7 linked regions of the Homo sapiens genome follow. The protein of the gene in region 2 purifies or fractionates together with the protein of the main gene of each other region. This does not show direct contact. Each region holds a gene or a part of one and is shown on either strand. Other genes may lie near its edges.

What was found.
Region 1: the proteins of ABL2 (region 2) and SCAI purify together in Homo sapiens (affinity purification with mass spectrometry, with the first as the bait; one large-scale study listed by BioGRID). This does not show direct contact.
Region 3: the proteins of ABL2 (region 2) and CD84 purify together in Homo sapiens (pull-down; one study listed by IntAct). This does not show direct contact.
Region 4: the proteins of ABL2 (region 2) and MPIG6B purify together in Homo sapiens (pull-down; one study listed by IntAct). This does not show direct contact.
Region 5: the proteins of ABL2 (region 2) and BCAR3 purify together in Homo sapiens (affinity purification with mass spectrometry, with the first as the bait; one large-scale study listed by BioGRID). This does not show direct contact.
Region 6: the proteins of ABL2 (region 2) and CASS4 purify together in Homo sapiens (pull-down; one study listed by IntAct). This does not show direct contact.
Region 7: the proteins of ABL2 (region 2) and PTPN18 purify together in Homo sapiens (pull-down; one study listed by IntAct). This does not show direct contact.

What each region holds. Positions count from the first base shown.
Region 1 is NC_000009.12:125,140,729-125,144,809, reverse strand, and holds the start of SCAI (protein SCAI), read left to right. Parts: upstream 1-1,281; 5' UTR 1,282-1,372; coding exon 1,373-1,425; intron 1,426-2,132; coding exon 2,133-2,177; intron 2,178-4,081. UniProt on the Homo sapiens protein: Tumor suppressor which functions to suppress MRTFA-induced SRF transcriptional activity. May function in the RHOA-DIAPH1 signal transduction pathway and regulate cell migration through transcriptional regulation of ITGB1.
Region 2 is NC_000001.11:179,111,178-179,114,677, forward strand, and holds part of ABL2 (tyrosine-protein kinase ABL2), read right to left. Parts: intron 1,222-3,500; coding exon 1,132-1,221; intron 1-1,131. UniProt on the Homo sapiens protein: Non-receptor tyrosine-protein kinase that plays an ABL1-overlapping role in key processes linked to cell growth and survival such as cytoskeleton remodeling in response to extracellular stimuli, cell motility and adhesion and receptor endocytosis.
Region 3 is NC_000001.11:160,544,997-160,548,496, reverse strand, and holds part of CD84 (SLAM family member 5 isoform 2 precursor), read left to right. Parts: intron 1-175; coding exon 176-241; 3' UTR 242-3,500. UniProt on the Homo sapiens protein: Self-ligand receptor of the signaling lymphocytic activation molecule (SLAM) family.
Region 4 is NC_000006.12:31,721,902-31,726,172, forward strand, and holds the start of MPIG6B (megakaryocyte and platelet inhibitory receptor G6b isoform G6b-B precursor), read left to right. Parts: upstream 1-1,471; 5' UTR 1,472-1,482; coding exon 1,483-1,543; intron 1,544-1,737; coding exon 1,738-2,085; intron 2,086-2,240; coding exon 2,241-2,331; intron 2,332-2,685; coding exon 2,686-2,726; intron 2,727-2,844; coding exon of another isoform or gene 2,845-2,863; coding exon 2,864-2,943; coding exon of another isoform or gene 2,944-2,972; exon of another isoform or gene 2,973-3,068; coding exon 3,069-3,173; 3' UTR 3,174-4,271. UniProt on the Homo sapiens protein: Inhibitory receptor that acts as a critical regulator of hematopoietic lineage differentiation, megakaryocyte function and platelet production. Inhibits platelet aggregation and activation by agonists such as ADP and collagen-related peptide.
Region 5 is NC_000001.11:93,584,338-93,587,837, forward strand, and holds part of BCAR3 (breast cancer anti-estrogen resistance protein 3), read right to left. Parts: intron 826-3,500; exon of another isoform or gene 635-825; intron 1-634. UniProt on the Homo sapiens protein: Acts as an adapter protein downstream of several growth factor receptors to promote cell proliferation, migration, and redistribution of actin fibers.
Region 6 is NC_000020.11:56,453,760-56,457,259, forward strand, and holds part of CASS4 (cas scaffolding protein family member 4), read left to right. Parts: intron 1-3,500. UniProt on the Homo sapiens protein: Docking protein that plays a role in tyrosine kinase-based signaling related to cell adhesion and cell spreading. Regulates PTK2/FAK1 activity, focal adhesion integrity, and cell spreading.
Region 7 is NC_000002.12:130,354,695-130,358,855, forward strand, and holds the start of PTPN18 (tyrosine-protein phosphatase non-receptor type 18), read left to right. Parts: upstream 1-1,361; 5' UTR 1,362-1,413; coding exon 1,414-1,506; intron 1,507-4,161. UniProt on the Homo sapiens protein: Differentially dephosphorylate autophosphorylated tyrosine kinases which are known to be overexpressed in tumor tissues.

The sequences.
Region 1 (4,081 bases), on a different chromosome or scaffold from region 2:
ATTCCTACTACAATTTACCGTCAGTATTACTTCATAAATGGAAAGTCATTTTACCATTAAAGATGTAGGTAGGACCATCTCAGAAGAAAAGACAACTCTTTACACCAAATACATTTGGTTTTGTGAAAAACTAGTATCCTAATTTTTGCCGCTTATGGAGATCAATGAGAGATTTTCCCCACCCCAATGTTGACATGTACTACTCGACGCTGTCATATTATTGAGGCATAAAAGATGTTCTAATAAAATGGAAGTGACTTAAGAGAAAGTTTTATGCCTCCTCCCAACTCTGAACAGATGCTGAGAATATACCAAACAAGTTCACACAGGAGTAGAGATTTAGAGAGGCCTTCCCACCTTCAAGAATTTTATAATACGTTAATGAGCTGAGTCTTATTTTCAAGGATGGCTTTGTTAAAGCAGAAGAAGGGTAACTATGCTTATGAAAGGCAGTTTTGCATGCCTGTTTGTCAAAAAATACAGTACAATTTATTTTAAAATTGATTAATTGGTGTAGAACTTGCAATGGTCACACAATCAGGATGGTCAGCTTCCATTCAGGGATCAAATTTGTCCAGGCCTTTCAAAATGGAACACGTTGCTTTTAGTATGGCATTGGTTCTGTTTGTAGTGCTGATTTTTCTTTCATGGTAATTAAAAAAAAATCTTACTTTCTTAAAAGCCTGCACCCAAGCTAGTGAGCTTTTCTGCAGAGGATTGAGCATCCAAACCATGCTTTATTTTGGTGGATTCTTAGAGTTTTCTGGCTGGGTCCTTTTTGAGGGGTAGCTGTGAGCTGTGAGACAATTTCAGCAAGATGTAGGGACAAGGATCGCATTCGAGGTGGCTTAAAAGGAAACACGTTTGTGAGAGTTGCCTCACTGTCTCACCTGCTAGAAGAAATTGGGAGATTTCAGGGCTTGTTTTCGGTCCTGGCGTGGTGCAGAGGTGGAGGGGCGCCAGCAGGTGTGTGGTATGCAGGACGCAGAGCCAGGAGAACCTGGGGCAGGTGTCTGGAGCCGGGGGTGCAGTTCCTACTTTTAGACGCATGGTGGCGCTAGGGTCTCCTCCGGCCCTGCTAGCAATCTCTAAGGCACCTCCGCCGCCACCTGCAGTCTCAACCAAACCTCTGGGTGGGCAGCGCGGGATGTGACGGGCCGAGCGTCCAATCGACTGACAGATTTCCGTCCACACTACTGCTCTAGCCAATGGGAGCCGAGGAGAGGCGCGGAGGAGGCGGGCCCCGCGGCAAGCCTGGCAGAGGCGCGAGGCCCTCCTCCCGCCTCTCCGCCTACTCCAGCCTCCGCCGCCTCAGCTTCCCGAGCGAGCCCTGCGGCCGCCGGAGCAGCTCCCGCGGCGGAGCAGGAGCCGGATGGTCAGAGGAGCCCGGCAGCCCCAGCAGCCGCGGAGTCGCCTGGCCCCCAGGTGCGGGGGCTGGGTGGAGGCCGGGGTTGGGGATGGGGTGGGGGCCAGGGAGCGGGCCCAGGGGCAGCGGCTCGGGGCGGTGGAGCATTCGGGGCGCAGAGACCGGAGGGGCGGGGGGTGCAGGCTGGGGGGACCTTGGGGGCGCCTGCAGGCGGCGGCGCGGGCTGGGCGCGATCGCCTCCTCGAGGCCAGGTGAGAGGGGCGTGTGAGGGAAGGGGCGCCGAGGGGTGAGGCTGGCGGCGCGGGGCCGGGAGGGGCAAGGCGGGCGCGCCCCCGGAGGGGCCGTGGAATGCGGGGGTCGCCGGGCCCGGAGAGGCGGGGCGTGGAGGGGGCAGTGCACGGTCGGGAACGGGTGGGCACAGGAAAGGGGAGGCTAGGGGGGCTTGCGGGGGTGACGAGGCAGACAATGAGTAGGTGGAGGTGGGTGATTTTGGGGAGCTGGGCTGTGACGAGCAGGGGTCGAGGATGGGGTGAGGGACCAGGAAGGTTTGAGCTCAGGGGGAATTGGGGGAACGGTGAGTCCCAGGAATGCTAGGTCTTGGTAAATAGGGGAAACAGGGCATGAGGCGTTTGTAAGGTCAGATCTGGGCTTGGCGAGCCTGTGGTCCCAGAGGGTGGTCTATTTAGTTCTTGACTGGCACGGTAGCGCCGGGAGATGTTTTCTTGTATGTTACTTTTAGTTACCGTCTTATTTGTTTGGTCTGCAGACTGACTGGCACAGTGGAGAAACCGCCTCGAAAACGGAGAAGCAGGTAAGGCAGTGCCTTCCTATTTTGCTTCATGTTTTTCTTTTTGCTTGGCTGCACCTGTGCCGTACTGCATAATTGTATACTGTCAGTAGATGAAGTTTCTTATTTATCCCCCTTTTAAAAGAATATAACCACATGCATGATTTTTCTTTTGAGGACTTCAAATTACTACCTCTACAGTCGATTTTTTTTTTCTTGGTATCTAAGATAATGTGGGAAATCTTGAGAAATCCTACTTTTTTACTTTTTGATGTTGTGTAAGGATCTCAGCTATTTTTTTTTTTAACCTTAGCCATAATTTCATTTTCTCCAGCATCTCTGTTTAAAAAGCTCATCTTGGCTGGGGTGGCTCATGCCTTCAATCCCAGCTCTTTGGGAGGCTGAGGCAGGAGGATCATTTGAGCCTGGGAGTTCAAGACCAGTCTGGGCAACAGAGCAAGACTCCGTCTCTACAAAAAATTGAAAAACTAGCCGGTCCCATAAATATATACACCTACTATGTACCCACAAAAACAAAAAATTAAAAAAACAAAAACCAACTAGCTGAGCGGGTGTTGTGGACCTGTAGTCCCAGCTTCTCAAGAGGCTGAGGTGGGAGGATTGCTTGAGCCCAGGAAGTCAAGGCTGCAGTGATGCAGTGAGCCGTGATCATGCCACTGCACTCCAGTGTGGGGAACACAGCAAGACCCTGCCTCAAAAAATAAACTAATTTTATTGAGCATCTACTATGTGCCAAGTACTGTGTACGAATGCTCTATGTGTATCTTCTCCTGTAATCCTCAAAGAACCCTAAGAGAATATGTAGTGTCACTATTTTACAGAAGAGGGAACTGCGACACAGAGAGGCCAAATATTTACCCAAAATCATGCATCTAGTAAAAGATAAAACCAGGATTTGAATCCAGACAGTCTGACTCCAGAGCTTAAGCTCTTAACTGTTATACCATAATGCTGCTAATAAATATGCAATTGAAAGTAGGTTTTCTTATTGCTTTATCTTTTGTCGTTGGACACTGTGTAGTTAACTCGAATGGTTGAACCTTAGGAAAATAGAAGCAAAGAGTTTAAGTAGTCCACAAACAAAGTGAATTAGTCCTTGAGTAATGGAGATGAAGATATATTTATCACATAAACATTTTTGACTGCATTCCATGTGAGAGGTACTACATAGCAATTCTGTGTAGTCATTAGATGATTCCTTTTTCACAGATGTTGGCATTGACCTAGAGAAAGTAAGCTACTGTAGTTATGTGACCAGTAGGACTACTTTCATAGTTAATATCTGGCAAGTTAATGATGTTAATACACAGAAAACCTCAATAGTAAATAGACACGAAATGCTGATGGTGGAAGTGCCAACAGAGTTTCCTTGTCACACTTTAGGCCTGTACTGTCCAATCCAGTAACCATATGCAGGGTGAGCACTCAAAATGCATCTAGCATGACTGAGGAACTAAATTTTTAATTTTATTTAATTGTAATTAAATTAACTTGAGAAACTGCTACTTGATCAGCTATTGGAAAACGTTCAAGTATGTTTTGAACAACTTGGGTATGTGAGTCTGTATTTTTCATCCGTCATTTTATGAAATCTAAGTATATATCAAATATTTCCAATGAGAATTTAGGGTCTGAAATGAGATAAGTATAAAATACATGCTAGATTTCAAGTTAGTACAAAAATTGAATAAATAAAATTTCTCAGTAACTTTTTATATTGATGACATAGTGAGACAATATTTTAGGTATATTGGAGTAAATACTTTTTTTTTTTTTTGAGACAGGGTCTGGCTCTGTCATCCAGGCTGTAGTGCAGTGGTGCAATCTCAGCATACTGCAACCTCCACCTCCTGGGCTCAAGCCACCCAGCCAATTCAGCCTCTGGAGTAGCTGGGACTACAAGCGCC
Region 2 (3,500 bases):
TTCACCATGTTGGCCAGGCTGGTCTCGAACTCCGGAACTTGTGATCCACCCGCCTCAGCCTCCCAAAGTGCTGGGATTACAGGTGTGAACCACAGTGCTCAGTCTTTTTTTTTTTTTTTTTTTTTTGACAGGGAGTCTTGCTCTGTTGCCCAGGCTAAAGTGCAGAGGTGCGATCTCAGCTCACTGCAACTTCCGTCTCCCGGGTTCAAGTGATTCTCCTGCCTCAGCCTCCCAAGTAGCTGGGATTACAGGCGCCTGCCATCACGCCTGGCTAGTTTTTGTATTTTTAGTAGAGACGGGGTTTCACCATGTTGGCCACGCTAGTCTCCAACTGCTGACCCCAACTGATCCACCTACCTCAGCCTCCCAAAGTGCTGGGATTGCAGGTGTGAGCTGCTGTGCCTGCCAAGCCTGATTTTAATTTTAGCCTTTTTGGTAGGCTGTGGATTGGTATCTCAGTGTGGTTTTATTTTGTATTTCTCTATGATGAGTAATGTTAAACATGGTTATTGGACATATGGATATCCTCGTTTACTAAGTTAAAGTTAACCTTTAACTACTTTCCATGTCAATATATCCAAGAAGGCCGGGCGCTGTGGCTCACACATGTAATCCCAGCACTTTGGGAGGCTGAAGTGGGTGGATCACTTAAGGTTAAGAGTTCGAGAGCAGTCTGGCCAACATGGCGAAACCCCATCTCTACTAAAAATAACAAAAATTAGCCAGGTGTGGTAGCAGGTGCCTGCAATCCCAGCTACTCAGGAGGCTGAGGCACAAGAATTGCTTGAACTTGGGAGGTGGAGGTTGCAGTGAGCTGACATCGCACCACTGCACTCCAGCCTGGGTGATAGAGTGAGACTCCATCTCAAAAAAAAAAAAGTATATATATGAATATCATTTTAAATATTCAGCTATATGGTTGTAATAATTTACAGTCCACTAGATATATAAGTTGTTCATAATTTCTCACTATTATAAACTATACTCTGATGCAATGTCCTTGTAGTTAAAAGTTGAAACAGAGTCTCAAACTCCACAAAAGTTGATCATTTTTGAAATGTAATTACCATTATCACCACCACCACCACTACCCAGAATTAGTCACCAACAGTAAATCCAACAGATTCTCACCTTCAGAAATGCTGGAGTCATGGAACATGGTTTCAAAAGCTTGGTGTGTTTCAGCAAAAGAGGGCCTATCGGCAGGGCTCCACTTCCAGCCTATGTAACAGAAGAAAAAATATTAAAAACTCCTTGCAGAAATTCAATATCCAGTGGTGTATCTAATAATGAGTTCTATGCATCATGATGCACACTTATTAAAGTACAGTTACAGCATGTTCACAATGATAGCAACATAGCCACTTCTCAGCTCTAGACTCAGAGGTATAATGAACCCACTTTCTAAATTCCTTTTTTCTTTTTCTTTGAGACAGGGTCTTGCTTTGTCACCCAGGCTGGAGTGCAGCTGGCATGATCTCAACTCACTGCAGCCTTGACCTCCTGGGTTCAAACAATCCTCCTGCCTCAGCTCCCCAAGTAGCTGGGACTATGGGTGTGCAACACCACGCCCAGCTAATTTTTTTTTTTTTTTTGAGACGGAATCTAACTCTGTCACCCAGGCTGGAGTGCAGTGGCGCGATCTCGGTTCACTGCAACCTCTGCCTCCTGGGTTCAAGTGATTCTCCAGCCTCAGCCTCACGATTTGCTGGGGCTACAGGCGCACGCCACCACGTCCGGCTAATTTTTGTATTTTTAGTAGACAGGGGTTTCGCCATGTTGGCCATGCTGGTCTCGAACCCCTGACCTCAGGTGATCCACCCGCCTCAGCCTCCCAAAGCGCTGGGATTACAGGCTTGAGCCACTGCACCCAGCCAAAGTGAGCACACACAGCGATCTCAAGCTACTGTATTTTTTATGTAGATGGGATTTTGCCACATTGCTCAGGTTGCTTTTGAACTCCTGAGCTCAAGCAATCTGCTCACTTCGGCCTCCCAAACTGCTAGAATTACAGGTGTGAGCCACTGCACCTGGCCATTAACCCACTTTCTAAGGCTGGTGCTTCGATTTAGCCTCAGCTCCTATTCCCTCTAATAAAAGGATGAGGAGAAACAAGGAGATGTTTTAGAAAATGGCAAGTTTTCTTCCACTTGAAAATAAAAGAAGTAAAACCTGTCTTCAAACTCAGCCTAACCATATAATCAACTGTATACATTCAGAAATATAAAAGGATATCAAAAAGGAGGATCTCAGAGTTCATTTTTGACAAAGTGCAACAGAGAACGTCAATGTTCAATGAGGAAACAACACAGACTTATGTTCAAACACAACTGCAATTAGGACCAGGCCTGGTGGCCCACATCTGTAATCCCAGCATTTTGGGAGACTGAGTCGGGCAGATCACTTGAGACCAGGAGTTCGAGACCAGCCTGGCCAACATGGTGAAACCTTGTCTCTACTAAAAGTACAGGCCGGGTGCTGTGGCTCAAGCCTGTAATCCCAGCACTTTGGGAGGCCGAGGCAGGCGGATCACGAGGTCAGGAGATGGAGACCATCCTGGCTAACACGGTGAAACCCCGTCTCTACTAAAAAATGCAAAAAAAATTAGCCGGGCGTGGTGGCGGCCGGCGCCTATAGTCCCAGCTACTCAGGAGGCTGAGGCAGGAGAATGGCATCAACCCGAGAGGTGGAGCTTGCAGTGAGCCGAGATCGCGCCACTGCACTCCAGCCTGGGCGACAGAGCGAGACTCCGTCTCAAAAAATAAATAAATAAATAAATAAAAATACAAAAATTAGGCCGGGCGTGGTGGCTCATGCCTGTAATCCCAGCACTTTGGGAGGCTAAGGCGGGCGCATCACTTGAGGTTAGGAGTTCAAGACCAGCCTGGCCAACATGCCAAAACCCCATCTCTACCAAAAATACAAAAATTAGCCAGGCGTGGTGGCAGGTGCCTGTAATCCCAGCAACTTGGGAGGCTGAGGCAGGAGAATCGCTTGAACCTGGGGGACGGAGGTTGCAAAGATTGTGCCACTGCACTCCAGCATGGGCAACATAGTGAGAGTCCGTCTCAAAAAAAAAAAAATTAGCTGGGCATGGTGTGCGTGCCTGTGGTTCCAGCTACTGAGGGGCTGAGGCATGAGAATCACTTGAACCCATGAGGTAGAGGTTTCAGTGAGCCGAAATCACGTCACTGAGCCGAAATCACGTCACTGCACTCCAGCCTGGGCAACAAAGCAAGAGTGTTTGAAAAACAACAACACAAATAAACAAACAAACAAAACCCTGCAATTTAATCCACTATTCACTTTCCTACTTTTTCATCTGCAAGCAATCGGATGCTTCTGTTTATCTACACAGAGGTTATTTTTATGCATTCTTCATAGTCTTTAGCAATCATTTTTATCTAGTTGAAAACGGCCCTCCCCACCTTAATCTCTAAACTCAATTTCTTATCTTATTAAATATGCAAATGTCTCTGAGAAACTGGGTCAATATTTGG
Region 3 (3,500 bases), about 19 Mb from region 2:
AGACATGAGGGACTCAGCAAAGAACAAGGCCCTGCTACCCCAGATTTCCCCAGCATGAGGCAAATCTAAGGCATTCCCCCGTGCCATTTGCTTAACTCCTCTGGGAACTTGCAGGACTGGAGTTCCCCAGCAGCACCTCTCAGTTAACATTTTCTCACGCTTCTCTCCTGCACAGATGGGGAAAGCCAGCACACAGGACAGTAAACCTCCTGGGACTTCAAGCTATGAAATTGTGATCTAGGCTGCTGGGCTGAATTCTCCCTCTGGAAACTGAGTTACAACCACCAATACTGGCAGGTTCCCTGGATCCAGATCTTCTCTGCCCAACTCTTACTGGGAGATTGCAAACTGCCACATCTCAGCCTGTAAGCAAAGCAGGAAACCTTCTGCTGGGCATAGCTTGTGCCTAAATGGACAAATGGATGCATACCCTTCCTGAAATGACTCCCTTCTGAATGAATGACAAAGCAGGTTACCTAGTATAGTTTTCCCAAACTTCTTCCCATCATAGCACATGTAGAAAATAATATTTTTATGGCACACTGGGATAAACAAGCAAGATTGCTCACTTCTGGAAGCTGCATATGACTAGAGGCCTCTTGTGACTGGAGGTAACAACCCTGCCCAGTAACTGTGGGAGAAGGGGATCAATATTTTGCACACCTGTAATAGGCCATGGCACACCAGCCAAGATGCTCTGCTCACAGTCAGTATGTGTGAAGATCCCTGGTGCGTGGCCTTCACCACGCATCTTGAGCAAATTAGGAAAATGTACCCTTCGCTTGAGGCAGATGCAGCCCTTCCCCCGAGTGCATGGCTTGGAGAGCAGAATGTGGGCTGCATATAAGCACACTCATCCCTTTGTCTGGGAATCTTTGTGCAGGGCATAACAGGCTTAGTAAGTCCAAACACAGATGACAGTGCTGTGTGGGTCTCTGTCAGAGTTGTGGCTCTCAGCCATGTAGACACACTCTCCAAATGGAGTGTTGGAAAATGTTCTTTCTGCAGGGTCTAGAGACTGCTGGGACACTTTTCTTGGAGTGCTACTTCAGAAGCCTTATAGGATTTTCTTTCTGGCCAAGATTTCCTTCTGTATCACTCCAAGCAGCCTCAGCAGAAGAAGCAGCCATGCCCAGTATTCCCACTCTCCAAAAGGAACTGACCAGCTTATATTTCTCACACTTCTGGGGAACTGGGTATAATCCAACCATCAAAATAGAAGACCTTGCAAGAAGCAGAGTCATTCTCCAGAAGGAACTTGGGAGATGATGGTGCAGATGATGAAACTGGGTTCATCCCAGTTCCAAAGACTCAGAGAACTAGAGTTTAAGCTGAGGCAGAGTGCCGCCACCCTGGCATGCCCCACAAACAGATCACCAGCCAGCTTACACAGGCATTAACTCTCCTCAATGAGGAAGAATCATTCACAACTGAGCAAGACATTCATATGATCATTTAAGGAAGTGTTTCCCTTATGTGTTAGCAAGTATAATCGGCTAACTCCTAAATCCCAATGAATAGTCCTAGGCTGGACAGCAATGGGCTGCAATTAGGCAGATAAAGACATCAGTCCCAGTAAATGAATCCATAGACTCATCTAGCACCAACTACCATTAGCACTATGTTAGGAGCTGCAAGGCCCCAAAGTAGAAGATGTGCATAATGTCTGCTCTTGTGTAGCTCAGGAGACAATTCCAGCACAGACACTACAGTTAACGCTGAACTGCAGCTGCAAGTAATAGCATGAACAGTCAGAAAAATACCTTATGAGGGGGCAGGGCTGAAGCTGGGCCTTGAAGGATGGATGAAATTTGGATAGAGAATGAGGAAGACAGAGGGCCTCCAAGTGAGAGAAGCATGAAAAATGAGCAGGGGCCTGGATCAGTGGGGTGTATTCAGAGCACCTCTCCAGATGCACCATGCATGCTCACAGTCCCTTGCCTATGTGTGGCAGAGTGTCCCAGCCAGATGTGTGCCCTCACCCCATGTCCATTTACATGTCCTTCAATGCCCACCTCAAAAGGTACCTCTTCTGTAAAGCTTTCCCTGGTATCAGGAATCAAAATTAATCAGGGATCTTTTCACACTGCTGTTTTTTCCTCTTTGGTCCTTCTATCACTAAAACTCATCTCATTCAGCCTTACAGCATAACTAATTATTTGTTTTCCTCACTACATTGTACATGTGGGAATTACAGATAAACGGAAGCCGGCTGGGGTGGTGGCTCACGCCTGTAATCCCAACACTTTGGGAGGCCAAGGCAGGCGGATCACCTGAGGTCAGGAGTTCGAGATTAGTCTGGCCAACATGGTGAAACCCCATCTCTACTAAAAATACGAAATTAGCCAGGTGTGGTGGCACACATCTGTAGTCCCAGCTACTCTGGAGGCTGAGACAGGAGAATCGCTTGAACCCAGGAAGTGGAGGTTGCAGTGAGCTGAGATCACACCACTGCACTCCAGCCTGGGAGAGACAGAGTGAGACTCCATCTCGAAAAAAAAAAAAAGATAGAAGCCAATAAGCATGGTGCAATCAAATTCTGGCAAGCATTAAATATCAGGATGCAGCTGGGCACGGTGGCTCACGCCTGTAATCCCAGCACTTTGGGAGGCCAAGGTGGGCGGATCACTTGAGGTCAGGAATTTGAGAGGATCCTGGCCAGCATGGCAAAACCCCATCTGTACTTAAAATACAAAAAAATTAGCTGGGCGTGGTGGTGCACACCTGTAATCCCAGCTACTTGGGAGGCTGAGGTGGGAGAATTGCTTGAACCTGGGAGGTGGAGGTTGCAGTGAGCTGAGATCCTGCCACTGCACTCCAGGCTGGGCAACAGAGTGAGACCATGTCTCAAAAAATAAAAATAAAATAAAATAATATCAGGATGCATACATCAGAGGCTGTTCCTAGTGTAAAGGCACTTTGGAGGGAGAAGACTTTCAGAGTTAGGCAGACCAACTAAGAGGTCAGCTGAAGCACCTAACCAGTTGTAAGGAGGTGAAAGACAGCACCCCAAGAAGAGACGTGCAGGAAGGAGGAAAGAGGCTTGGTCATAAAGGATGGAGGAATTCCAAAGTGACACTGAACAGGCTGCGTTTATCCTAAAATAAAACCACTCCTCACTCTGTGGATGCGTTGAAGACTCATTCCCAAACATCTTTATTCTCTAACTTGCCCTCTTCCTCTTCCTAATATGCTCACTCAAGTAAAATTACTAGTGTCCTAATGCCCCTATGCATATTGTCAAAAATAAAAATCAGAAGCAGGTTAGATCTGTTAGGTCTTCCAGAAGAGCAAACCTGGGATGAAGCCAGAGCCCAGGAATTCTGAAGGTAGCCTTTGGACTCAGGACACCCTACTCTTGTCTCTCCTCTCAGTTTCTCTGCTATGAATCTCCTGATTCATGAACACGTTATCTGTTCACCCTTCTCTCTAGGTCTTAGTTCTTAGATTTTCCTTCTGTAAAATGCATGTGATCTTATTTTCCCCTCCACAACTTTCCA
Region 4 (4,271 bases), on a different chromosome or scaffold from region 2:
GAGAGAGGGATGGGGGAAGGCAGGTGCCACTAGTGGCCAATGCCATTGTGGTTCTTGGTTTCAGGCCAAGATGCCCTTCCTGGTCCCCAGCTAAGAGTCCTGCTGCTCAGTCCTCTGAATGAGCATCATCAAAGGCCTCTGTGATTTACAGTGTCCATGGTGGCAGCTTCTGCTGGTTCCTGGAAAATGGACAAAAGGATGTGGCCCAAATTAATTGCTGAATTTGGGTCCCTGGGTCCCTGCTGGGCATTGATAGGGGCATGCTGGTGGAAATTGGGGGAGGAATGGGTCAAATTAATCTCCATTCAGCCCCCACTCGGTCTTTCCAATGCCTGCTCAGCAATAAGTGACTCACTGATGGCTTCTGTGATGCCACAGCAGCAGAGGCAGGGGCTGGGGCTACTCATCCAGGAGAGCCACCACAGGTCTGCTAAGTAGGGCTGCCTCAGGCTCCCATGAAGGTTCTCAGGATGTCACCCGTGCTCCACTTGCGCTTGGTGTGGCCTTGTTGCTCCAGTCCAGCAGCAGCAATTGTCCTAGGTGTGGCTGTGTGCACCTGCTCCAAAGCACCTCCCCAGTCAAAACCTGCCAACTTGGGCAGGGTACCAAGCCAGGAGGAACAGCATGGGCACAGAGAGGTGAGGTAGAAGCTAAAATAAGAATAGAAATAGTAGGCCGGGTGTGGTGGCTCACACCTGTAATCTCAGCACTTTGGGAGGCCGAGGTGGGTGGATCACAAGGTCAAGAGATCGAGACCATCCTGGCCAACATGGTGAAACCCCATCTCTACTGAAAATACAAAAATTAGTCAGGTGTGGTGGCATGCACCTGTAGTTCCAGCTACTCAGGAGGCTGAGACAGGAGACTCACTTGAATCCAGGAGCCGGAGGCTGCAGTGAGTCGAGATTGCACTCCAGCCTGGCCACAGAGCAAGACTCTGACTCAAAAAAAAAAAAAAAAAAAAGAATAGAAATAGTAATAATAATGGCAAGCACTTACATAGTGATCCTATGTATTCTAAGCAGTTTACATGTATTACTTTATTTCGTTATCACAATCCCCTACAAAACAGGAGTTTTTTTTGTTGTTGTTTTTGAGACAGGGTCTGGCTGGCTCTGTCGCCCAGGCTGGAGTGCAATGGCCTGATCACAGTTCACTGCAACCTCGACCTCCTGAGCTCAAGCGATCCTCCCTCCTCAGCCTCCTAAGTAGCTGGGATTACAGGCGCACCTGAAAAGTTAAGCAGGCCAAAGCATTTGTGTAAATGGCCCGAGCACACATTTTAAGTGAGAACCATTTGAAGACTCCGAGTTTGCCTGCGAGGATTCCCAAAGGGATCTGGGCAGCTGGTGGCCCCGCCCCCTCTCTTATCGGAGCCCCCCAGCCCCTCCGTTCTCCCCACGCCTAACTTCCCTCCGGTCCCCCCCCAACCGGCCCCACGCCGCTGATTCGCTCGCAGCTTCTCCTCACCACATCCTAACCATGGCTGTGTTTCTGCAGCTGCTACCGCTGCTGCTCTCGAGGGCCCAAGGGAACCCTGGGGGTAAGCGATCCCTGGGAGAGTTGTGATAGACGCAGAGGGGCTGAAGCAAGATAAGGGCCGCCTAGTAGGGTGGGTTGTGTGTGGGAAGATCCAGGATGGCTGGAGTGCAGAACAGAGAAGAGAAAGAGGAGACGGGATGGAGGGTCGTCTTGCCCTGTGGACGTGCCCTAACCACAGCCTCCGGCCTCTCCTAGCTTCTCTGGACGGCCGCCCTGGGGACCGGGTGAATCTCTCCTGCGGAGGAGTCTCTCATCCCATCCGCTGGGTCTGGGCACCCAGCTTCCCGGCCTGCAAGGGCCTGTCCAAAGGACGCCGACCGATCCTGTGGGCCTCTTCGAGCGGGACCCCCACCGTGCCTCCCCTCCAGCCTTTCGTCGGCCGCCTACGCTCCCTGGACTCTGGTATCCGGCGGCTGGAGCTCCTCTTGAGCGCGGGGGACTCGGGCACTTTTTTCTGCAAGGGCCGCCACGAGGACGAGAGCCGTACAGTGCTTCACGTGCTGGGGGACAGGACCTATTGCAAGGCCCCCGGGCCTACCCATGGTAGGTGCAGGCCTGTGCGCACAAGGGTACTTAACTCCGACACATACCCGGAGGAGGGAAGAGGGCCTTGGCTGGGGGTTCTTGAGCGGGACTGCTGGCTGTCCCTCGTCAAACCCCTGACCTCAGCATCCCTCCCCGCCACGCCTTTCCCCCAGGGTCCGTGTATCCCCAGCTCCTGATCCCGCTGCTGGGCGCTGGGTTGGTGCTCGGACTGGGAGCTTTGGGCCTGGTCTGGTGGCTGCACAGGTGAGCAGGAGGGACCCGGCCTCGTTAAATGGGGAGTGACCAGAGGTGGAAGGGGCAGGACCAGAACCTTCGCAAAAGAAAGAGCTAGACCTAGAGCTCTGGTCCTGGCTTGGCGAAGAATGGGAGAGGTCAAAGGTGGGAGCGAGGCCGCTGACTGGTGAGTAGAGCCCCACCAGAGCAGATGAGCTGGAAGTGCAGCAGAGTTAGAGCCTGGGCTGGACTGTCGGTGGGGTAGAGTCTAAGTTGTTTCCGGTCTGAGCCTTCAAGTTGCTGGGCTGTCCTTGGCGTGGCGAGTCCCAGGAGAACCAGTGAGACAAGACTGGTGGTTCTCAAAGACTCATATGTCCCTTACAGGCGCCTGCCCCCGCAACCGATTCGACCACTCCCTAGATTTGGTGAGACTAATTCCACCCCATTTTCTTTCTCCTACATGCCCACTCCCCACCCCTCAATTCCTGAGTCTGAGCCCTTGCTGGGAGCAGACACGTTGGTCACCTTCTCTCCATCCTTCAGCTCTGTCCCCCCCACATAGCTCCACTTGTGAAAACCGAGCCCCAGAGGCCAGTAAAGGAGGAAGAGCCCAAGATTCCAGGGGACCTGGACCAGGAACCGGTAAGGGCATGGGGATGGGAAGGGGATAGCCAGAATCTCTGAGGAAAATGGACCAAAAAAAAAAAGGCCTGAACCCCAAGGAAGACTGTGGAGACCATCTTGTCTTCCTCCCCTTCCTCCTCCAGAGCCTGCTCTATGCGGATCTGGACCATCTAGCCCTCAGCAGGCCCCGCCGGCTGTCCACAGCGGACCCTGCTGATGCCTCCACCATCTATGCAGTTGTAGTTTGAAGGGAAGCCCTTACTCCAAACCTCCCAAGCTAGGGGATCCCAGCTCCCCATAATCCCTCTCCCCTCCTTGGTTCCTCACCTGGAAGAGGAAGGCACCATGGTATAGAAATAAGTGCTAGACTGGGAGTTGGGAGACCTGGGTTCCAGGCTGTCTCTGCCACTGGTCTTACTTCTAAACTTACTCCCATCTCTCCTATAACCTCCATGTCTCCCTCACCACCAGTGTCCTCTCTATACCCAATCAAGCCCTAGCTCCTTTTTTTTTTTTTTTTGAGACGGAGTCTCGCTCTGTTGCCCAGGCTGGAGTGCAGTGACACCATCTCCCTCACTGCAAGCTCCGCCTGCCGGGTTCACACCATTCTCCTGCCTCAGGCTCCTGAGTAGCTGGGACTACAGGCGCCCGCCACCACGCCCAGCTAATTTTTTGTATTTTTAGTAGAGACGGGGTTTCACTGTGTTAGCCAGGATGGTCTTGATCTGCTAACCTCGTGATCCACCCGCCCCGGCCTCCCAAAGTGCTAGGATTACAGGTGTGAGCCACCGCGCCCGGCCTGATTCTTTAAGCTGTTTTTCTTTGTTGCTGGTGTTTTCTTTTTGGACTCCTCTTCCTTGCTCCATATCCCTACAGTATTTCCCACCATTCTAGGTTTGTCCCTTTCTCTTCTTCTGGGACACTCTCATCAACAGTCAGTCCTCAGCCCCCTCCTCTGCAAATGACACTCAGAACTCTCTCTGGCTCAGATCTCAGATTTGGGATTAACAAACTTCCACTTAGACATTCTGCCTGACTGACCTCAGGCATTTCGCACTCTGAATGTCAAACCCAACTCATTGTCATCTCTGAAGCTGCTCACTTAATTCTCCTCTGTATTCTCTTTAACAACCCAGTTGCCCAACCCAGAAACTGGGAGTCACGCAGACCTCCTTTCTCTCTTACTCCCACACAATGAGCCATGAAGTCCAGTCTTTCTATCTTAACATCACTGTCAAACCCACACTGTATTCCATGCCCAGCGCTGCCACGTGAATGTACTCTGCTCACTTCCTTCCTGGATTACCCATAGCCCCACCTCATCCTCCTACCCTTGCTTTCCTCCC
Region 5 (3,500 bases), about 86 Mb from region 2:
GTCCCCATGACCAATGCAGCAGCTGAGTCCTAGGATGCCTCCTCTGGGCTGTTCCATCCTGTTGAACAGAGTAGGGTAAAAGTTTTACGATACTCCCGGGAAAATCTGATGAACTGGAATGTGTACTTTTAACAGAGCCTAAAATTACTTACAGGCCCAGAGGGAATGGCTTGCCTAACTAACATGCATTTTCCACATGCTCCATAGTGTTGCAGTTAGGAAGGAAGCTGTGGGGAAACTTCCATTTTGGTGCAAATCTCAGCATCCCCCAAATAACCTGCAGGACTGCCTGGGGAGGCTGCCATCCCCAACCTCCTGGCTGCTCTCGGGGGACCCCCACACAGCCTCCTCCTGCTGAGCTGGGAAAAGGCACCGGCACGGTCACCAAGCAGCAGTTGGGAGGCACACTGTGTAACCACACAAGGAAAAGGTGGAAGGTAACTTTCAACACACTCGCTGTTATTCCTTCTGTCCCTTTCCAATTCAGACTGGGAATTTCTCCAGCACCAAGCACCAGAATCTCCCTAGCTAGAGACAGAGGCACTGCACCAGCCAAGTTGTTATGAACTTTAATTGGCCTTCCCATAAGCATAAAACATTGTTATGTTACAGAAATCACGAAGTTCTTTCCTACCTTTACAAGCACCAAAGAAAAAACAAATCAAAAAACCCCCAAACTCCAAGGAACAGAGAAATTCCAGCAACCTTTCGAAGATAAGACAAGACCGAGGGCAAATTACAAAAGGAAATATCTCCCGAGAAGTGATATTTAAGCAGTGACCACTGCGGCTGGACTCCAGGGGCCAGAACGGCAGGGTGTGGAATGCAACCTGCCTGTGAGCACACACCTTCGCCCAGGGCAGGCCACCAGCCAGCCAACTAGCAGGCCCGACGTCAGGGCAGGTGGCACCTGGCCAGAGCTGCATAAGGGAGCCACTGAAGGACACTGGGGCAGGGCAGCAGGCCATGAGCCATCTTTTCCCCTCCTCCCACTTAAACATTTCTGGGCGTGCTGCGTGTACAAAGTGGTGACAAGTTCTAGGAGGATCTGCATTCCAAAGGGCAAACAGAAAAGTGGCTCTATTAGGCCTGACTTGTTGACTTAAGAGACTTAGTCTTTTTTTCATTTCTTATCTTAAAAAGTTTTTAAACCAGGATCATTCAGGGCCAACTAGGAGGCCTTCCCTGCAGCAGTGGTTCTGTTATCCTGCCGAATACACTCCCACTCTGTGCATGACATTAATTCCCTGCTTCGACCATTCAGCAGCCTATCCTTCCCAAAGGAAACAGAAGAAAAGGTACCCCTTCTAACACTGTAAGGCATCTCAAGTCCAATCCTATTACTATGAAAAGGAGGATTTCTAAATATCAGGTCTTGCCTCCCTCCTTGCAATTGCCCTGAGTTTTTTTGTTTGTTTTGAGACAGGCTCTCGCTCTGTTGCCCAGGCTGGAGTGAAGTGGCATGGTCATGGCTCACTGCAGCTTCAACCTCCCAGGCTCAAGCAATCCTCCCACCTCAGCCTCTCGAGTAGCTGGGACCACAGGCACACACCACCATGCCCAGCTAATTTTTATATTTAAAAAATTTTGTGCATACATAGTAGGTGTATATATTTATGGGGTACATGAGATGTTTTGATACAGGCATGCAATGTGAAATAAGTGTATCATGGAGAATGGGGTATCCATGCCCTCTAGCATTTATCCTTTGAGTTACAAACAGTCCAATTACACTCTTTATTTTAAAATATATAATTGTTTTGACTACAGTCACCCTATTGTGTTATCAAATAAGTCTTATTCATTCTTTCTAAATTTTTTGTACCCATTAACCATCCCCACCTCCCTCCCATCCCCTACTCCCCACCCACTACTACCCTTCCCAGGCTCTGCTAACCATCCTTCTACTCTCTGTGTCCAAGAATTCAGTTGTTTTGACTTTTTGATCCCACAAATAAGTGAGAACATTTGTCTTTCTGTGTCTGGCTTATTTCACTTAACATAATGATCTCCAATTCCATCCACGTGGTTGCAAATAACAGGATCTCATTGTTTTTATGGCTGAATAGTACTCCACTGTGTATATACACATTTCCCTTATCTATTCAGCTGTTGATGGACACTTAGGCTGCTTCCAAATCTTAGCTATTGTAAACAGTGCTGCAACAAACATTGGTGCAGGTATCTCTTTGATATACTGATTTCCACTCTTCTGGGTATATACCCAGCAGTGGGATTGCTGGATCATATAGTAGCTCAATTTTTAGTTTTCTGAGGAACCTCGAAACTGTTCTCCATAGTGGTTGTACTAATTTACATTCCCCTCAACAGTGTAGGAGGGTTCCCTTTTCCCCACAATCCTCACCAGCATTTGTTATTACCTGTCTTTTGGATATAGGCCTTTTTAACTGGGGTAAGGTGATATCCATTATAGTTTTGATTTGCATTTCTCTGATGACCAATCATGTTGAACACCTTTTCATATGCCTGTTTGCCACTGCAGTGGCATGATCTCGGCTCACTGCCTCCTGGGTTCAAGCAATTCTCCTGCCTTAGCCTCCCTAGTAGCTGGGACTACAGGCGTGCACCACCACACCTGGTTAATTTTTGCATTTTTAGTAGAGATGGGGTTTTGCCATGTTGGCCAGGTTGGTCTTGAACTCCTGAACTCAGGTAATCCACCTGCCTCGGCCTCCCAAATTGTTGGGATTACAGGCGTGAGCCACCATGCCCAGCCCATTTGTATGTCTTCTTTTGAGAAATACTCATTTCTCAAAAGAGCAAATCTTTTGCCCATTTTAAAAATCAGATTATTAGAGTTTTTCCTATAGAGTTGTTTGAGCTCCTTATATTAATTTTCATATTTTTTGTAGAGACAGGGTTGTGCCATGTTGCCCAAGCTGGTCTTGAACTCTGAAGCTCAGGCAATCTGCCCACCTTAGCCTCCCAAAGTGCTGGGATTACAGCTGTGAGCCACTGTGCTGGGTCTGAGTCTGACATTCTACTCTCCTCCAGATAATAATTATCATGAGCACTTCCCTAGCACCTCCTCTGTGCCTGCACTGTTCTGAGCACTTTGCATATATTAAATCATGTACACCTCACAAGCTCCATCTTTCTAGATGAAGAAGGTGAGGCCCAGGAAGGTCAAGTCGCTTGCCCATGGTTGAAAAGTTGCCCAATGTGGAGCCGGCATTTGTGCCTGGCTACTGGGTCCCCAGCCAGATGCTGACTAGCATGTGCCGGAGCCTCCAGGCAGCACACAGCTGTCATTTACATTCCACACAGAGTCCTGTATTTTCCTCCCTAAGTTTTGCAGTATAGAAATGACAGTTTATGACATTTCCTCATGGACCCCCCCGCCAAAAAAAAAAACCAGTGAGTAGAATAAAATATGTTGGTTTACGTGCATAAGATTAGAAGCTGGGAGCCGGGTCAGGGCTGCTGTGTGACTGAGGGGCTGGACTGGATCTATGTCCCCGATGCCTGCCTTTTCCCTC
Region 6 (3,500 bases), on a different chromosome or scaffold from region 2:
ATGCACTTGGGAGTCTGAGTGGGGGTATCCCTTGAGACCAGGAGTTTGGGGTTGCAGAGAGCTATGATGGTGCCACTGCACTCCAGCCTTGGTGACAGAGCAAGAGCTAATCTCTAAAAAAAAGAAAAGAAAAAAAAGAGTTGGGATATAGTGGCTCACTCCTGTAAACCCAGCACTTTGGGAGGCCAAGGCGAGCAGATCACTTGAAGTCAGGAGTTTGAGACCAGCCTGGCCAACATGATGAAACCCCATCTCTACTAAAAATACAAAAATTAGCTGGGCATGGTGGTGTGCGCCTGTAATTCCAGCTACTCAGGAGGCTGAGGCAGGAGAATCACTTGAACCCAGGAGGCAGAGGTTGCAGTGAGCTGAGATTGCATCACTGCACTCCATCCTGGACCACAGAGCAAGACTCTGTCTCAAGAACAACAACAACAAAAAAACAAAAGACAGAAAGAAATACTTTTCTGGATGAGTTCAGACATTATAGAGCGAGATGCTTCAGTTCAGGGATTGTGAGCCTTAAGAGGCCCAGAAGTCACTTGGGGGCTGTGTCAAGGAGATAATTTGCTACTTTCAGCCCCGACCTTTGTGTTCTGCTGAAATGCCTGGTGGTGTAGGAGCTTTAACATGTTCTAGAAATTTGGATGTTTAAAATTTACATACACATATATATAACTTTAAACAAACCATGTGGGTCATTATATCAGGCCATGTTGATAGGCAAAATTCAGCCTTTGGGTGGCCAAAGTCTCCTTTGGTTGAGAAAAGGAATCAGTAGGCAGAACCATCAACAGAAAATATGAGAAAGAATGCTCAAGTCTAAAGTGAACTTAAACAGTTCCACTGTAGTGTAAAACACCACTCAATTTGGTAAGTTGAAGGGATTTTATTTTTCAGACATTGCCTAACTTAGAAGAGAAAGATAAACCTATCTTGGAATAAAGGTTAGATGAAAACAAAGACTTAGGAACCATGGTAAGCTATAGCACTCACTCTCTAAAGCTTCTGATTCATACGCTCTATTGCTAGATTCGTCTCATCATGCTACGGATAGCTCAACATTACAGCCATGACCCACATGGGCGAGAGTTCGTTTTTGTGATTCTTTGTCCTTTATTTTAGCAAGAGAGTCCTGGAGATCACTGAGTCTAATGAACGAACCCCAGGGAATGAAAGTGAAGCATTAACCATTACTGAAATGACTGTAGGGGCTCTGCAAGGTTGTTGTGGGTGGTACTGACAGGGCTAAATAGGACTGACTCCGTTCCTCTTTGACATTCTGATTTAATGTTTCTGATTACAACAGCAAATCTTGATTTGGGGCTTGTATATCTTCAACACCTCTTTTACACTTGATGTTCTTCCTTTTTTAAAAAAAAAAAAGTCAAAGATGTTATCGTTGTGCTTATTTTTATTGGTTTCCTTCTATTTGTGGTCAATGACAGTAGTTTTCCATTTACCATTTTTCACAGTTTCCTTTAAATTAATGTAAGTAAAAACAATGGGTCCATTTAAAGGAAAGGAATGAAGCCAGTAGAAGTTAAGAGGAAGGTGGAAAGAGTATAACTTGTAAAGGTTGTAAAGGTTGTCTCTGAATAACTGAGCTTGGGAAACTTACCTAGGTTATAGGGCAGATGGGGTAGAGGGTGGAAGAAAAGGATGTCCAATGATAGGATAAGGTCATGTACCTTCTCAGAGGCAAACTAGGACAAGAATTCAGGCCTCCTGATGCTCAGCTCCCTGAACCCCAAACACTAGTCTTTGGGCCTGCCATATTGCTGACAGTTATGCTATTTTGTTCAACATTAAGTAGGCCTTAGACTAGTGGTTCTCACATTTGAGTGTATCACAATCACCTATGATCTTTGTTAAAACTCACATGGCTGGCCGGGCATGGTGGCTCACGCCTGTAATCCCAGCACTTTGGGAGGCCGAGGCGGGTGGATCGCCTGAGGTCAGGAGTTTGAGACCAGCCTGACCAACATGGTGAAACCCCGTTTCTACTAAAAATACAAAAAATTAGCTGGGCATGATAGCGGGCACCTGTAATCCCAGCTACTCGGGAGGCTGAGGCAGGAGAATTGCTTGAACCCGGAAAGCAGAGGTTGCGGTGAGCTGAGATCGCACCACTGCACTCCAGCCTGGGCAACAAGAACAAGACTCTGTCTCAAGAAAACAAACAAACAAAAACAAACAAACTTGCATGGCTGGGCCCCGCTCTCAGAATTTTTGATCTAGTAGGTCTGGGGTGCAGCATAATAATGTGCATTTCTAGCAAGTTTGCAGGTGACGTTGATGCTTCTGGTCCAAGGACCTCACTTGGAAAGCCCCCGCTTTAGACTGACAGCACTTCTCAGTGGAGGCCCGGGGCACCGTTGGCCACCGGGTGGACAGTTCTCCATTGCGTGGTGAACCGTTCAGCATCCCAGAACCCCTGCCCGCTCACTGCCTATAGAAGTCCCTAGTCAATGCGATAACCAAAACTATCTCCACACATTTCCAGCACCCCATGTTAAGAATCTTAGTACATTTTTCACCTCCCTACGGTTAATATTTTCACTTAAGATGCTCATAATCTGATGCCTACCTCATTACTTCTCGTTATTTCTAAACTCTTCTTTTTTTTTTTGAGACGAAGTCTTGCTCTGTCACCCAGGTGGGAGTGCAGTGGCGTGATCTCAGCTCATTGCAATCTCCGCCTCACAGGTTCGGGCGATTCTCCTGCCTCAGCCTCCTGAGTAGCTGGGACTACAGGCGCCTGCCACCACACCCGGCTAATTTTTTGTATTTTTGGCAGAGACAGGGAGTCACCATGTTGGCAAGGCACATCTCAAATTCCTGACCTCAAGTGACCCTCCTGCCTCAGCCTCCCAAAGTGCTGGGATTACAGGTGTGAGTCACCGTGCCCAGCTCCCTTTTTTATTTTATTTTTTTGAGACAGTGTTTTGCTCTGTTGCTGAGGCTAGAGTGCAGTGGTGAGATCATGGCTCACTGCAGCCTCCACCACCCAGGTTCAATCGATTCTCCCACCTCAGCCTCCCAAGTAGCTGGGACTACAGGCCCGCACCGCCATACCTGGCTAATTTTTGTTTTGTTTTGTTTTTGGTAGAGACAGAGTTTCGTATGTTGCCAAGGCTAGTCTCAAACTCCTAGGGTTAAGCGATCCTCCTGCCTCGGCCTCCCAAAGTGCTGGGATTACAGGTGTGGGTCACTGCACTCAACCTGCTTCATTCTTATACTCCCTGCTTCCAAGAGTCCATGTGAACTGACATTTCAATCTTTCCTTCACTTTCTATGACAAAGACAATCATTGTTTTCATTTTCCAAATATGCAATTCTAATAATGAAGGTGCTTCTTCGAAGTATGCCTTCCTCTTCCTTGTCTAACTTCCCCTCCAACCCTACTAGGAGACATAACCCCCTTCTGAAAAAATCAGTTTTATGCCCTATCTGTCTGAATGCTTCCGGGCTATGAATTTTGAGATAATAGGTAAATG
Region 7 (4,161 bases), on a different chromosome or scaffold from region 2:
CTGCGGACCCCACGATAAATCAAACAGCCCTAGCTGCTGATCCCCACAGAGCCACTTTGATCGCTCCATCACTTCAGCCAAGGTCAGCAAACGACAGCCTGTAGGCCACACACACACACTAGAATAATTCATGACACATGAACATTACATGAAATTCTGATTTCTTTGTCCATAAATGGTTTCTTTGGGACACAGCCACACTATATTGTCTGCTTTCATGCTGCCACAGCTGAGTTAAGCAGCTGGGGCAGCGATAGCAAAGCCAAAACCACTTCCTACCGGGACCTTTAAGAAAGTGTGCCCTTAAATACTCTGATAGCCCCTAGTGAATTAAATTGACCACCTGACATCATGCCCCTGTTGACCCTTCAGAGACTCAGGCACACATCCAGGCCCCAATGCTACCTTTCAACCCCTCAACGACCTCAAACTGGTGTCCACTGACGCCCCTTCCAGTGACACCCCTCTTAATTCTTCCGACCTCGGCGAGAAGGGGGCTAACCTAGGCCTGTCCTTGAAGAGACCCAGGTGCCAGTCCATTCTCTCCAGCCTCCCCTCGGTGATCCCGGAAGCTGGAACGGCGGCTCTCCTCTGACCTCTGCACACTTTCTGAAGATGGGAGTGTCAGGGCAGGCAAAAAAGAGAAGCTCTTCGTTCCCCAGAACCCACTTCCAGTGCCTCAGTTCTGTTTCCCAGCAGGCTTGTGCAGGTCGAGATGCTCACACAGGACTGACCCTGGTGCCCCAGCGCATCCGGGAAAAAGGAACCACAAATTCCTCGGGAAATACACAGAGAAGATCCCGCTGCCACTTGGCCTTTCCCACGGCGTGGCTGCCCCTCCCCGGCCTCCCTTGGGCCCGGCTGGAGCGCACAGCGCGGGACGCCCCCGACCCGGGGTCCTCTGGCACGAGGGGCAGCCTGATCTCGGCGACCGTCTCCACCCAAGGCTGCTGCCCGCCCCAGCTCGGACTCCGCGCGGCCTGGCTCCCAGGGGACGGGCGGGAGGGCCCGGCGAGACCGCTCGGCCGTCCACCCAGAGCCGGCACCCGGAGGTCGGCCCCTGGGCGCGGATCCCGATCTGAGGGCGGGTCCCAAGCGGCAGGGAGCGAACCTGGGACCGTGCCACCCCCCCACCAGTGGGCGCGGCAGCCGAAAAAAAGGGGAAGCGCCGGCGCTGGACTCTGCTCAGGGCAGCCCGCGAGGACCTAGGGCTCCGGCCACAGCGGCCCGAGCGCCCGGGGTGGGGCTACGCGGGCTCAGAACACGGTGGCTGGGGCGCCCTGCCCGCCGCTGCGCGCTTCCATTGGCTGCCGAGGCAAGGGCGGGGACTCAGTCACCGGCCTCCGCCTCCCGCGGCGTCCACACTCGCCGCGCGCGCGGCGGCCGGGCTGGACCTTGCTGGCCCGCGGCGCCATGAGCCGCAGCCTGGACTCGGCGCGGAGCTTCCTGGAGCGGCTGGAAGCGCGGGGCGGCCGGGAGGGGGCAGTCCTCGCCGGCGAGTTCAGCGTGAGTGGCACACGGGGTCCGCGAGCGGCGCGCCCCGGCCCTGGCCCTGCGTACGCCTGTCCTCCGCGCACGGCGGGCTCTGCCTTTCTGTCTCGGTGTCCCCGGTGTCTCCCCGCCTCGGGGGGTCTCTCCGTGTTTCTCTCCCCAGCACTTCTCTGTCGCTCTTGCTGTCTCCGTCTTCACTCTCTGCCCCCCGGCCCCGGAGCGCGACGTCCACGGCCAGGCCGGGACGGACCGTGCACACCCTCGTTCCCGGTGTCCTCGTCGCGCTCCCGGAACAACCTGGCTGCGGGCGGGACAGGTGGGGCGGGCGCCGCAGGGGAGGGCGGGCGGCCCTGCTGCGCTGGACAGCCCCGGCCCCGCCGCTTCTGGCGACCTGACTGTCCCCTGTGACCACAGGAAGGAAGGGGCTGCAGCAGGGCGAAGAGGAACACGGAGGCTGTGGCGTGGTGAGGGTGTGAACGCCGGGCTCGAATCCGCGTCCGGGCCCGAATCCGCTTCCCGTCCCGAATCCGCGTCCCGGCCATCCGCGTGTGGTCCAGGCGGTCTACCTGGCCCCTCTGACCTCGGCTTCTCCCTTGGTGAAATGGGGACATGAATGACCAAACTGGTCTAAGGATTAAATGATGTGGGTGAAAAGCACTTAGTACATATTGGGCGCACACTTCGTAGGGGCGTTCGTCACTGCCTATAAAGATTCTAAACGTGGGCCAGGTGCGGTGGCTCACACCTGTAATCCCAGCACTTTGGGAGGCCGAGGTGGGAGGATCGCTTGAGCTCAGGAGTTCGAGACCAGCCTGGGCAACACAGCGAAACCCCGTCTCTACTAAAAATACAAAAATCAACTGGGCATGGGCGCATGCCTGTAATCCCAGCTACTAGGGAGCAGAGACAGGGGACTCGCTTGAACCTGGGAGGCAGAGGTTGCAGTGAGCTGAGATGGTTCCACTGCACAGCTGAGATGGTGCCACTGCACTCCAGCCTGGGCCACAGAGTGAGATCCCATCTCAAACAAAACAAAACCAAACAAAAAATCTAAACGTTACAATACAGGTAGTGCAAGCCCAGCATTAGGAAGGCTCACGCAGAATGCTAGGCACTGTACATTACAGTTGATGACGTGTTTAAAGTGTAATCGCTTATGTACCAGACATAGAAACATACCATACAAACGCATAAACTGATATATGGTGACATGTATCAAGTTTAGAAATATGACAAATATATAAAAGTATTATAAATGACCGTTTATACAATAAACATTGCATAACTGCATAAAACAATACAACAAATGAATATAACAAAGATTATAATTTATAAAATGACCAAAGTTATTTGATAAATTCATAAGTAGATATAAAATATGTAACAGATGGCCGGGCACGGTGGCTCACGCCTATAATCCCAGCACTTTGGGAGGCCGAGGCGGGCGGATCACGAGGTCAGGAGATCCACACCATCCTGGCTAACACGGTGAAACCCCGTCTCTACTAAACACACAAAAAATTAGCTGGGCGTGGTGGCGGGCGCCTGTAGTCCCAGCTACTCGGGTGGCTGAGGCAGGAGAATGGCGTGAACCCGGGAGGCGGAGCTTGCAGTGAGCCGAGATCGCGCCACTGCAGTCCAGCCTGGGCAACAGAGCGAGACTCCATCTCAAAAAAAAAAAAAAAAAAAGTAACAGATAATTATAAACCTAAGTAATTTACACACATGTAGAAACATTGTATATAAGAAACTAAGAAATGCATAATAAATGTAAAATATATAATTATACAATATAAGAATGTGTGTAACAAATGTAAACATAATACCCATGTGATATATGACATCATGCGACTGGGTGGGTTCTGAACCGTGTACAGTGCGGAGGGCCTCACATGCGGAAGGCTGGGTGGCGAGGGCACCCCTGCTCCCCAAGCCTGCCTCCCGCATGTGCAGGAATCACTGCGCTCTTCTAGGTGTTCCCACTACACAAGGGCATCATGAGGGCTTAAATGACCCAATGGACACAAGTAAAGCACTTAGAATAGTGGCTGGCACACAGTGGTGGCATGGGTGTTACTTATTATCATTGAGATTACGAATACCTGACGATGATGGTAATACACGATTCACTAATTATTATTATAATCTCCCAGTAACACAGTGCCTATAGTATCTTGTACATAATATGTTATCCATTATAATGCCTATGCATTCATTGTACATTGTCTTATATGTTTAGCTACATAGCCCATAATATATTTCATTACAGTTATTGCTTACAAGACAATGTCACAGATTGAGTGTGCAGGGGGTGGGTGCCGAGAGGGTCTGAGTTCAACCCTCACCGTGTGACTTCCTGGTTGGGACCTTCCACAAGTCGCTGAACCACGTGGTGCATAAACTTTCCCGCCTGCACAATGGGGACGTCAATAATAGTACCCACGTCGTAGGAACCTGTGATGATTACATGCCCTTAGCACAGAGAGTGGCACAGAGAAGGTGCCCTGGGTCACTATTTCGGTATCATTATTATTAGGCAGGCCCAGTGCCATCAGGGTCTGCACTCACCTCCCCAGGCCACTGGCTTTGTATCCTGCAAGCGTGCCTAGGTGGCCTGGGACTCTGACCTGGCTCCTCTCCTGTCTTCTCCCCTCCCTGACCCACTCATAA